Homo sapiens: one gene and its partners. The protein of the gene in region 3 interacts with the protein of the main gene of each other region in a pairwise test. Each region holds a gene or a part of one and is shown on either strand. Other genes may lie near its edges. The genes, in order: WNK1, MAP4K4 and SLC9A1.

Region 1 (3,729 bases), on a different chromosome or scaffold from region 3:
AGATTCACTGTATCTCATGTTCCCTCTTTTCTTTCTCAGTTTTATACATCTTTCTGGGAAGGTGCCCCTATGAATAAAAGATGGCATTAACATATTCTGTCACTATCACAGGGTATTATTTTCCTCTTTCTTACATGTATACTTCTTCCCTACAGATGGTGGCAAGGAGGTCTGGGTATTCCATCCTGTTAACCATTCCATCCACCGCAAGCACACAGCTTCCTTCTACCCTTCCACAGTCTAATCCTACATCTGTCTTGGCTTCTATCAATCTATTCTTGCACAGTCTTTGCTTAGGCCTTTCCCTCTATCTAGGCACTAGCTATTTACCCTTACCCCTCCACATGTCTCACTTGCTATTTTTTGTCACACTTTATACTCCCTTAGAAATCTGAATCCATGTTTTTAAATGAGAAAATAAGTTTAAAACTAATTTTCTAACTCCTGATTTACGGACTTTCACAATGCACTTTCCCCCAAATGTGGTGGCTGATGGAGTGCTTTCTCTGTTGGGGTTTTTACTTCATTGTGGCAAGTTCCTCAAATAGTGTTCCCCTGTACATTGGGACCAAAGAAATAGGGATAAATTCCAACTCAGCTTCTCAAGTAAGCAATTTACCATGTTTTTCTTATTTCTTATATATGATTCAAAAATAAATTCCTAATTTAGTTTAAAAGTTTACTGGCTTGTCTCATGTCAGAAGATTTTTCCTGGTCACAACAGATTCACAATTAGTACTTTTCTTATGGAAATTCAACAAATGTGTTGGCGGTGGACTGCGGTGGGAAAGAGAAATAATAAATATTACAGGTAATTCTGTCCACCACTGCACTCAAGTGAGCAGAACTGTGTGAGATGGGAATCTCAAGTTCATGAGGCTGGTCTCAGTTCCTCCATGAGTGATCTCATAATGTTAGCATCTCACTGAGCTCGGTGGCTTTTATTTTAAAAGAGACAGCACACATAGTTTTCATGAAACATCACCCCTATACCTACCTATAAGTAAGCTAATTCCTTCATTAGGTGGCTAGTGAAAGAAATGATCAACATTCAAGAAGAGACTGGTTGCTCTGGACTCGCGGAAAAAGTTTCTCAGTTGCCATATTGTGCTTCTCCTTTCTAGGGCACTCTCAAAGTTAATTTTGATTATATACGCAATTTCGCTATTCTACAGAAGTGTGAGTGATAAAGGGAGCTATATGGGTCTGACAAAATGTTTGCTTTGCTGTTTTCTTCCTTCATAAGATATAAAAAAAAAATTAGTATCAAGTGTTTTTGGATAACCGGAAGCAACATTACAAACAAAAGAGCTATGAAGCTTCTTACTTAAGTAGGAACTGGGTCATTGGTTATAACATTTTAAAAGAAAGGTGTTACTAAGTCAAAGACAAATAGGCAAAAGCCAAGACCACGTAGTGGAGAACTTCAGCAAGCTTTGTCAAAGAAAGTAGGGCACAGGAAGAAATTTGTCAAGTCTTGAGGCACCTGGGTTAGAGAAGGTCCTGGAAAAGGTGGCAGCTGCTCGCTGGGTAGAGTACCTGCTGGAAGTTCAGTACCCACTGGCAGCACCTACAGACAACAAAGGGAAAATCAAGTCCGTGAGACGCTAAATATAAAGACTGCGTACTGAAGAGCAAATCAACTAATTTGAATGCACAAACATAAGAATAAAATATATATAGTTAAGACATGTTTATCACTGAGGTTACTCTCTGGTATCTGTCTTAAAAAAACGGTGTGACAACTAATGTTGTTATTATAGGGGTTACTACGATATACCTATAAAATGAATAGTAAAATACAGTAAAAAGTTGTCCCCTAGGGAGAACAGAACAAAGGCTATATGTACATAAGTGGCAGTGTCCAGATATTCTTGAGCTACTTATTTGGTACAGTATGTATCAGACTTTCGCCATGTAAAACAAGATTTTCTGAGAAAAGAAAACAGTAACTGGTTAAGAAATAACCAATGGGCAGGTCTGATAACAAAAGGCATCAGAAATCTAATACTATTATCAAGAATTTCTATTTTATCTGAGTGAAGATTCTGCATTATCCTACTATAAAAAGAACCTCACATCAATGGCAATGCAGAAAGAGGCTGAAGCATACAATACAGTAGACGTAACACAGCCTTGTTATTTGGAGAAGGTGGCAGAACAAGAGGAAATCCACCACAGCATAATTAGATAATAAATTTTAGTTACTTCAGTCCTAGGATTAGATTATTTATTTCTCCTCTGTATCAATTTCCTTACTAACTTCCAATTTTTTATAACCCCCAAACTGTACAACTGTGGAATCTACAACAAAACCAAAAATTTGCTTCATTCTCACTGAAACAAAGACTATGAACTGCTATTATTTACGTACATTTTGCTGACAGATGCATTTAGCTCCCTTTTGGGATACAGACTTCTTCAGTTTGTACCAATTCAGAAGAAATACCTGTATTTTACCCGATAATTATACCATCTTGGAAAACTGTGCAGCATAATTAACCCTAAAATCCTGCCACACTTGAAAAAAAAATCTCATGTTCATTGTAGATATACCCTCAAACTGCTGTCAATTTAATAAATACTATAAGCCAGGTACCTTTATAAATATGTTTCTAACTTACAAGGCTGAAGTGAAAAATGTACTCATTAGGGAGAAAAAAAACTGATCATATTTATCTAATTATTTTATAACAATAATTTTACCGGAGCCTTAGTTAGAGGTGGCTTGGAGGGAGCAGTTCCAGGTTTCACTCCTGATGTAGTAGTGCTGACTGGGGTAGAAACTTGCCCAGGTGTGACCACTGGTGTAACTGGCAAAGCAACTGTTCCTAGTGGTAAATTGGTTGGTGGTAAGCAAGTACTTGTGGTAGAAGTCAGGAGTTTGCTTGGTGCAACAGCAGTAGTTGGGATGCCTGGTGTGACAGTGCTCTCTATGACTAGTGAGGTCTCCAGTGAGACAGAGGCATGCTGAGCTCCAGATGAGCTGTGTTCACTGAACAGAGACCGCAGCTTTTCTTCTAGAGTCTTTATGTCATCAATTCCAGGAGCTTTGGGTTGTGTATCAGAATCTACTTCAGGACAATGAGTATGGGGCTGGTTGGGAAGCAAAGCTGGTTGAGGCTGACTATGAATTAGTGTCTGCTGTACAGCAGGCACATTGGCAACAGGCTGTACCAAGGGTGGGATACTAGGTACTTGGGGTAATAAAGGTGTAGAAGTAGGTCCTGCTGCTTGGGGAAGAATAGGAGTAGAAGCTATCACTGATGGAATGACCAAAGGATGCAGCCCACCAGGCTGAGAAATATAACTAGACACTCCTGCTCCAGGAGAGGAAGAGGAAGATGGTGCAGAGAGGGAGAAAGCCAATCCAGTTGTACTGCTATGAGATGTCTTATCTAGTGAGTGTGCGCTAACTACCACGGTTTCAGCTAAAGTAGGAGTAGAAGTACTGCTGCTAAGCTGAATGCACAGCTGTGAAGCTGTGCTTGGGAATGAAGTGGTGGTAGAAACTGATGTTAATGTGGCTCCCACAGTAGTGCTGCCTGCTGCCTGCTGAGATACTACAGCTGGAGGCTTAGGACCTGGGGTAGCAGTACTGCCCCCTGCAGAGGCTGAAGTTGCTGAAACTGTTACTGAAGGATACAGTGCTGTACTAGAAACAACGATCTCAGATGTGGATGTGGGGACTTGAAGTGACGGGGATGTAGTAGATATTGAGACAACTGC
Region 2 (3,500 bases), on a different chromosome or scaffold from region 3:
AGTCCCTGTTCCACTGAGGACTGGCTCTATGATCCCTAGCATGCTCTAAAGCTCCCCTTTTCTCAGTCTCCTCATTTGAGAAATGAGCATCCAAAATCTCCTCTCCCAACCCTCAGGAATTTTTGTAAGGTTCAGACATGAGATTGATATGAAATAACCTTGAAAAGCATAAAACATTTTACAAGCCAAAGAGGCTTCCTTTTTTTGGACAGGGAAAAAAGCTCTAGAAGAGGAATAGACTAAGAAGGACTACGAGGAGACATTTTATCCTGAAATTCAGATTCCCTTTTAAGAGTGTCTACTGCTGACCATCCCCTTGTGTCATGGTGCACACCTTGAAACAAAAATAGCCATCAATATGGGCTGAACAGAAGTTTTAGTTAACCAATATCTCTGGGAGAATATTGAAATTACAGCATATAAAAATCCTTAGAAAACCTTACTTTACAAAGAAAACTGAGCCAAAAAAGCCAACTGGGGGGGTGTGGGCAGAGGGGTGGGGCGGACTTAGTCAGAAGGCTACTGACAAACATATCTGGTTCTGACCTGGGATCTACGTCTCTTGTGTCTATGTCTGACCCTCCATGGTACATGCTACAGCAATACCTACCCTAGCAAGGCTTGTGGCCTTAACCCAACTGTGACGGAGCAAAGGAACCTGACTTTCAACTCATTTTCTTTTTTGAACAAAACAGAATTAAATCTTAACTCGAAAGATCAAGTCAGTACACTCATTTGTTTTCTGCCCTCAACACAGGGACAGCTGGAAAAATCATGTCCTCTCCAAACCACAAAGGTCCTAACACATAGTCAATGAACAAACAATACACAACACGCATCTACACAAACATACACACTTATGCTGAAATGAAATGCGTCCTACAGCACTGTTAACATGGGAATTACTATTTCACAATAGAACAGGGAAAAACAGAATAAAACCGATTTTAGAATTTTTTTTTTTAAAAGTGGTGCCAAATACTTGCTATTCACAAAATTTAATGACTGCCACTAGAGCATTAAAGATGAATTGCTACCATCACACCCTCCTCTCATGATCGAACTGTAATCATTATTTCTAGGTGATTTAATTCTTAAAAGCTTGAATGTTTTCCTCTTTGCAGACCCCAGGTATAAACATAAGTGGAATGTTAAAGCACACGCGCTACACAGTTAAATGGTTGACAACGTCAATTAGGTAACATAAAAAGCGTCACTGAAATTCCTGGGAAAACACCGAGGAGCATGCAGACCCAAGCTTAGAAAGCCCAAGACACATGATAAGCATAAAGGACGGCAGCTGAACAGTCACATTTGAAAGTTAACACCATGGTTTATAAGTTTAAAATACAGATACCAAGTGCTATTTAAATTGGTCCTCACATATCATTTTTTTCTTTATTCCAAGCTCATAACAAAGAGATCAATTCAAAGACAAGAAAGGCAAAGGGGCTAAGGGCAAATTGTATTTGTACAGGTGGTTCAGGAAACAAAAAAATAATTCTAAATAAAATCATACCTGACATTAATAAAATGCTGCAAATATTATTAAAACCTGATCTTTTTTGGTTGAACTCATCAATGTTAGTTTTTTTAATGTGCTGTGTATATACAGAATTACATGCTGATATATATTACAGTATTCACTTAGCCACTGGATATTCAAATATTTCTCCTAAGAAATTTCTTACTGTTGGTTTTTAATTTCATTTTTTTTTTAAAAGTTAATTATCACCCATATATTTGGGGTCTACAGCATTTAAGCCAAGCCTGAGAAGATACATGCAGACATCTTTCAGGTATTATACTATTTAGAGACCACTTAACTGGTTTCAACAGGTTCCTAAAGTGTAATGATTTATAAACCCTTTTTAAGACAAGAGACTGAATTTATTGGTGTCATTCCAACTGTGTTTCACCACGTTCATACATCTGAAGTTCTAAGTATATGTGTATGTGTGTACATGTGTGTATGCATCACATGTGTGTATACTTTCTAAAAATCCCCCAGCTCTGCAAAGTAACAAACTTCACAAGTGTATGCCTGCTATGTTATCTGTGAACTAACCTGTTCTCTTTCAACTCTCCTCTTTTCTTCTTCTGCCCGTCTCCTCTCCTCTTCTTCTTTGCGCCTTCTCTCCAACTCCTCTAGACGCCTCTTTTCTTCTTGTTCTCTCCTTCGCTGTTCACGTTCCTGCTGCCTTCTAGCTTCCCGCTCTCTCCTTTGTTGCTACGTAAGTAAAAATGTATAATTACCAGGGATCTTCCCGCCATCTTTCTCATGATGTTATAGTGTGCTGATCAGTCAGTGCCAGGTGGACACTAATGAGGTGAGGTTCATGGGCCCCATATCTACTGGCCAATTATTTCCACACTGCCCCTCGGACCCATAAGTAAGGGCTTCTTCATGAATGCTGGTCAAAAGTATTGTGACTCTGTGAATCCTTATAGGGTTTAGTTTCATTTTGATAACAATTATTCCCCACTGCTCACTGCACCACAGCAATTAGGGGACAGAAAATTCTTTATTCGTGGATATCATTAACAGGGTTATGCAGGACCCTTAAGTCAGAAGAAAAATACATTAAGAGAAAGAAATAAAGGGAAATAGAAATACAGCAAAGACAGACAAAGAATTTAAAAAAGGAAAAAAAGAAGCACACATCAGGAAAAGAGGAACTGACGTCAACAAGAATAACCAGGACCATTATTATTAATATAAGTATTTCAGAAACTGCTACTGAGCAAATGCTTACTACTATGTGCCTGGCACTATGCTAAGTATTTGATATTTCTATTCCACTTACTTTACCTAATATAATTCTCCTAACAACCCAAGGAAGTCATTATTTCATCCCTGCTTTACAGATGCGAAAGCAGGTTCAGAAAAGGTAAGTGACTTGCCCAAAGTCACACAGCCAGCAAGCCCCCAGCTGGAAGAGCTGCTCTGCCTCTACGGCCCATACATACTCTTAACCACCCTCTACCCTGCATCCCATCAACAGGTGTAAAAGGTGCTACTGAATCACCAGACTCACTCAGCCTTTCTAAATCCAGACTGTTCTATGTAACCCTACAGAACAGAGCAAGATGACATGCCAGGCACGTGATGACAACTCACTCTTCTAGCTCAAGGCTGTCTGCCAGTAAAGCACAAGCTAGACTCTGGACTCTCTGGGATAATAAAAATGTTCTGTCTCTGCACTGCTCCGTAGTCACTAGTCACGTGTTGCTAATGAGCACCTGAAATATAGCTAGCATGAATGAAAAACTGAGTTTTTAATTTTGTTGCACTGAAGTTAATTTTAATTTAAATGGCCAAATGTGGCTAGTGGCTACTGGGTAGCAGCAACTCTAGGGGATGCACAGCCATCAAATTTCCCAGACACAGAGAGCCAATAATATTAACACAAACTTTATTTGTGACACTAAAATTAACCATTAAACAAGAAAGCTTAGGGTAAAGCTATCAGGGATGTTAGACATATTTATAATGGATA
Region 3 (3,729 bases):
CAAGAACCCAGCATGTTGGCCTGGCAGGAGAGAGTTTGGCCTTGAGTGATTAGTCCCAGGCATGCTAAGTGACCTCAGGCAGGTCACAACCGAAGGCTCAATTTCCTTAGATGTAAAATGATGAACACATCAATACCACATGCTATTCTAACCCACAGGACCACTGAGAAGATCTAAATTAAATATTGTACACACAAGTGCTTTGGAAACAAATTTCAGTGCTAATGAGAAGTACTATTAAACTCCTCCTGCCTTGTAGAGCTAAACAAAGTTGTGCCACCTGCTCCCAACAGAGGCTGCCTCTCAGGGGACTCTGCTGGGCCCTGAGGGTAACCAAAAGCAGCCTGTCACCTTTCTGCTCAGAGGCGGGAGGTCATAAGGTCAGCCACCCCTTGTGGCTAAAGGAGACCACCCTTTACCTGGCACTTCCCTGCCCAAGCAGGGAAGAAGCAAGCTCTGGTCTGATGGCTGAGAGGGCACCGGAAGAGAGATAGCAGGCAGGGTTGCTAGCAGAGAACAAGGGATAGGCCTCCTGAATGCAGGATTCAGGTGCATCCAAGAAGACTCACAAAAACAAAGGACAGGTGCACAGCTGGACACAGAACACCTACAGCTTTCTCAAGGCAGGGACAGGGCTCCCACCAACGACATGTGCCCAACTCCTAGAGGGAGTCCTACAATTCCTGAGTGCAGGTGCAGTGAGCTGGGCGCTTCTCAGTGCAGGGCCATGTGCATCTGCTGCGGGAATGCCAGAGGCAGGAGATGCAGCTGCACCCCTCTAGCAGGCTATGCCAAGACTCGAACAGACAATAAATAGCAATTTGACATCACTGAAGATAACCTCTCTGAGCCATTTCCTCATCTGCAAAACAGAGACAGCTTTTATCTCATGTGATTTGAGTAGGGATTAAATAAGATTGCTTTTATAAAGTGCCTGACACTACTCTGTAGATACTAAGTGGCAACTATTATTAAAACACACACACCCGTTCAACACAGGAGATGTCACAGGGCAGGCAAGGCCTAATGCCACTGTTATGGATAAACAATAAGGGAAAAGGGTTTGGGAGAGAAAGAGAAAGTGACTGCTGTGGGCTGGGAAGACCTCCCAAAAGGGGAAGAATCTGCACGGCCCTGAAAGTTACTACAGTGAGCTGGGCACTCTACCAGGCATTCCCACGTTCAGCCTCTACGTTGGTCTTAAGGATGAGGCAAGTCAGGTTCAGAGAATGAGGTGCATGAACCTCAAGGTTCATGGTCACACAGGTACTGAGAGGCAGCATCAGGAGCAGAACCCAGGGCTTCTGACTACGTCTTTCCTTTGTACCAGGGCTGGACGCCATGGGGCTGGCTTGGAAGGAGAGGAAAGGCAAACTTCGAGGGTGCTCAGCTGAATGAAGTCTGGGCAATCTGACCAACTAAGCCCTCTAAGTGCCTTGGCACTCCTAGAGACACATGTCCTACCTGAAGCCTTCCTCCCAGTCCCCAGCTGACCTCCCTCCCACTGTTCTGCAGTCAGTCTGCTATTTTCCCAAAGAGAAAAAGGTCATCGCTTCCTTTTTAGAGTCCTATCTGGGCTTCTTGAGACAGTTTCAAGGTGACCTTTAGGCTATTTGTTCTTCTCTTCTTTTGAGAAGTGAGAGAGGCACCTTCTAGTGTCATTTTTATAGGAAACCAGTTGCTGGGTCTGATATCCATGCATGTGAAGTGGGCAGTGACCCCATCTCCCCTATTCACAGACTTAATCTACAGAGGAGATGGCAGGATTCGCCTTGCAAAGACCAAAACCAAAAAAAGCTATAAGATATAAAGGGACAAAAGAAGCCTTTTGTGTCCCTGGTCAGGAGACAAGATGAATACCTGCTTTATGGGCTCCCGGGCCTCTGCCAGGCATTCTGGGTCAGGAACATGGGTAAACAATTGCAGGAGATGCCAGTGGTGAGCTGAGTTACAGTGAGGCTCTCCTCTGGAATAAGTACTAGCCTGGGAGTCAGGTGAACATGGAACAAAGCAGAGTTCATGCGGGGTCCACAGCACAATGTGGGGTGGGGAATGCACCTAACTCCTAAGGCTTGGAGTCATTCCCACAGTTTTCCCAATAGCCTAAATCCTCTTCACACCACTGGCCCCTCCCCACCAAGGACAAGCAAGAATTCCTGACTGCTGGGGAGAGAAAAAAGGTCCAGAGAGGGAAGGTGACTTACCTAATGTCACCCACTGAGTCAGAGGTAGACTAGAACCCAGAAGCAACTATTCTAGAACTTCAGCTCCCACCCTGCTCCTCCCACCCCAGTCTCTGCAAGAGTCTACCCGAGGCTCTGCTCCATGGTTAGGGTAGGAAGGAGAACTGCAAAGCACTTTCTATTCTTATAGGAGGGGTAACCTGCAAGGGAAGCAGCTGCCATAGATGACAGAATGAGGGCTCCAACGGAACTCCTACCCACGCAGGGGTGTTGAGAGAATAGGCAAGACCCCAAAATCAGCTCCCAGGCTCTTGGGTATCTGAGAGTGCAGAGGGAGCATGGCCTCAGCCCCCCACCCTTATCCCTACAAGGCAGCTGGTGTCATCTTCCCTCCCGCCATGACCAGCTCAAGTGAACAGTATAGGACACATGGAAACCCTGATACCCTAAGGAAGGACATTGGTGGCAGCCTAGGTTTGAGAGATTTGTAATCCTTCAGCTCAGAGGAAGGTTGTAGGAGGCTGAGGTAGGGATGCATTTGCTGTAGGTGGTTAAAATATTAACAGGGGCAGCTGTCACTCATTGAACACTTCCTGTGTATACAAACTTTTATGTGCATTTATTTATGTAATAATCACATTAATAGCACTATAACTGGATACTATTAGTTCCCATTTTATTTTTTTTTATTTATTTATTTAGAGACGGAATTTCACTCTTGTTGCCCAGGCTGGAGTGCAATGGCGCAATCTTGGCTCACTGCAACCTCCGCCTCCTGGGTTCAAGCGATCCTCCTGCCTTGGCCTCCAGAGTAGCTGGGATTACAGGCAGCCGCCACCATGCCCAGCTAATTTTTTGTATTTTTAGTAGAGACGGGGTTTCACCATGTTGGCCAGGCTGGTATCAAAACTCCTGACTTCAGGCGATCCACCCTGCCTCAGCCTCCCAAAGTGCTGGGATTACAGGCGTGAGCCACTGCGCCCAGCTTAGTTCCCCTTTTATACATGAGGAAACTGAGGCTCAGAGATGCTGCTAAGTGGCAGAGTGGTGGCTGAATTCCACACTGCAAAGGTGAAGCTGGGAAAAATGGGCTTTCATTTTTGAGGCCTGAACAGGGACTCTTCAGATCTTTAGACCACCTTTCTCTCCACTCATGGCCAGATGCTAGAACTCCTGTTTTCAGAGGCAGAAAAATGCCTTTCCAAGGCAGAAACAGACTTTTGGAAAGGAGACCACATCCAGCCTCATCATTTTACAATGGGAAAACTGAGGTCCAAGGCTGAGTGACTTGCCAGAGTTTCCAGAGTCAGTGGAATGACAGAAATATCACACCTGGAAGGGACCACAAAGATCAACTGATGGGTAGGGAGGCGTGACTGGTCCAAGGACAGAGGGAGGTAGGAAGAGAAGCCAGGTTTTCCTGACTTCTAGACTGATATTGTTGCCATGACACCATCTCTGCTCTCCAGCTGCCCAGGGTCCCGGGCACAGCACTTGGGTGGTGACAAAGCAGGCCAGGCCAAGCTGACCTCATTAGCACTAGAGA

The links.
Region 1: the proteins of SLC9A1 (region 3) and WNK1 interact in a two-hybrid assay, tested with the Homo sapiens proteins (one large-scale study listed by BioGRID).
Region 2: the proteins of SLC9A1 (region 3) and MAP4K4 interact in a two-hybrid assay, tested with the Homo sapiens proteins (one large-scale study listed by BioGRID and IntAct).

Annotation. Positions count from the first base shown.
Region 1 is NC_000012.12:885,062-888,790, reverse strand, and holds part of WNK1 (serine/threonine-protein kinase WNK1), read right to left. Parts: coding exon 2,707-3,729; intron 1,571-2,706; coding exon 1,487-1,570; intron 1-1,486. UniProt on the Homo sapiens protein: Serine/threonine-protein kinase component of the WNK1-SPAK/OSR1 kinase cascade, which acts as a key regulator of blood pressure and regulatory volume increase by promoting ion influx.
Region 2 is NC_000002.12:101,854,707-101,858,206, reverse strand, and holds part of MAP4K4 (mitogen-activated protein kinase kinase kinase kinase 4), read right to left. Parts: intron 2,231-3,500; coding exon 2,069-2,230; intron 1-2,068.
Region 3 is NC_000001.11:27,148,494-27,152,222, forward strand, and holds part of SLC9A1 (sodium/hydrogen exchanger 1), read right to left. Parts: intron 1-3,729. UniProt on the Homo sapiens protein: Electroneutral Na(+) /H(+) antiporter that extrudes Na(+) in exchange for external protons driven by the inward sodium ion chemical gradient, protecting cells from acidification that occurs from metabolism.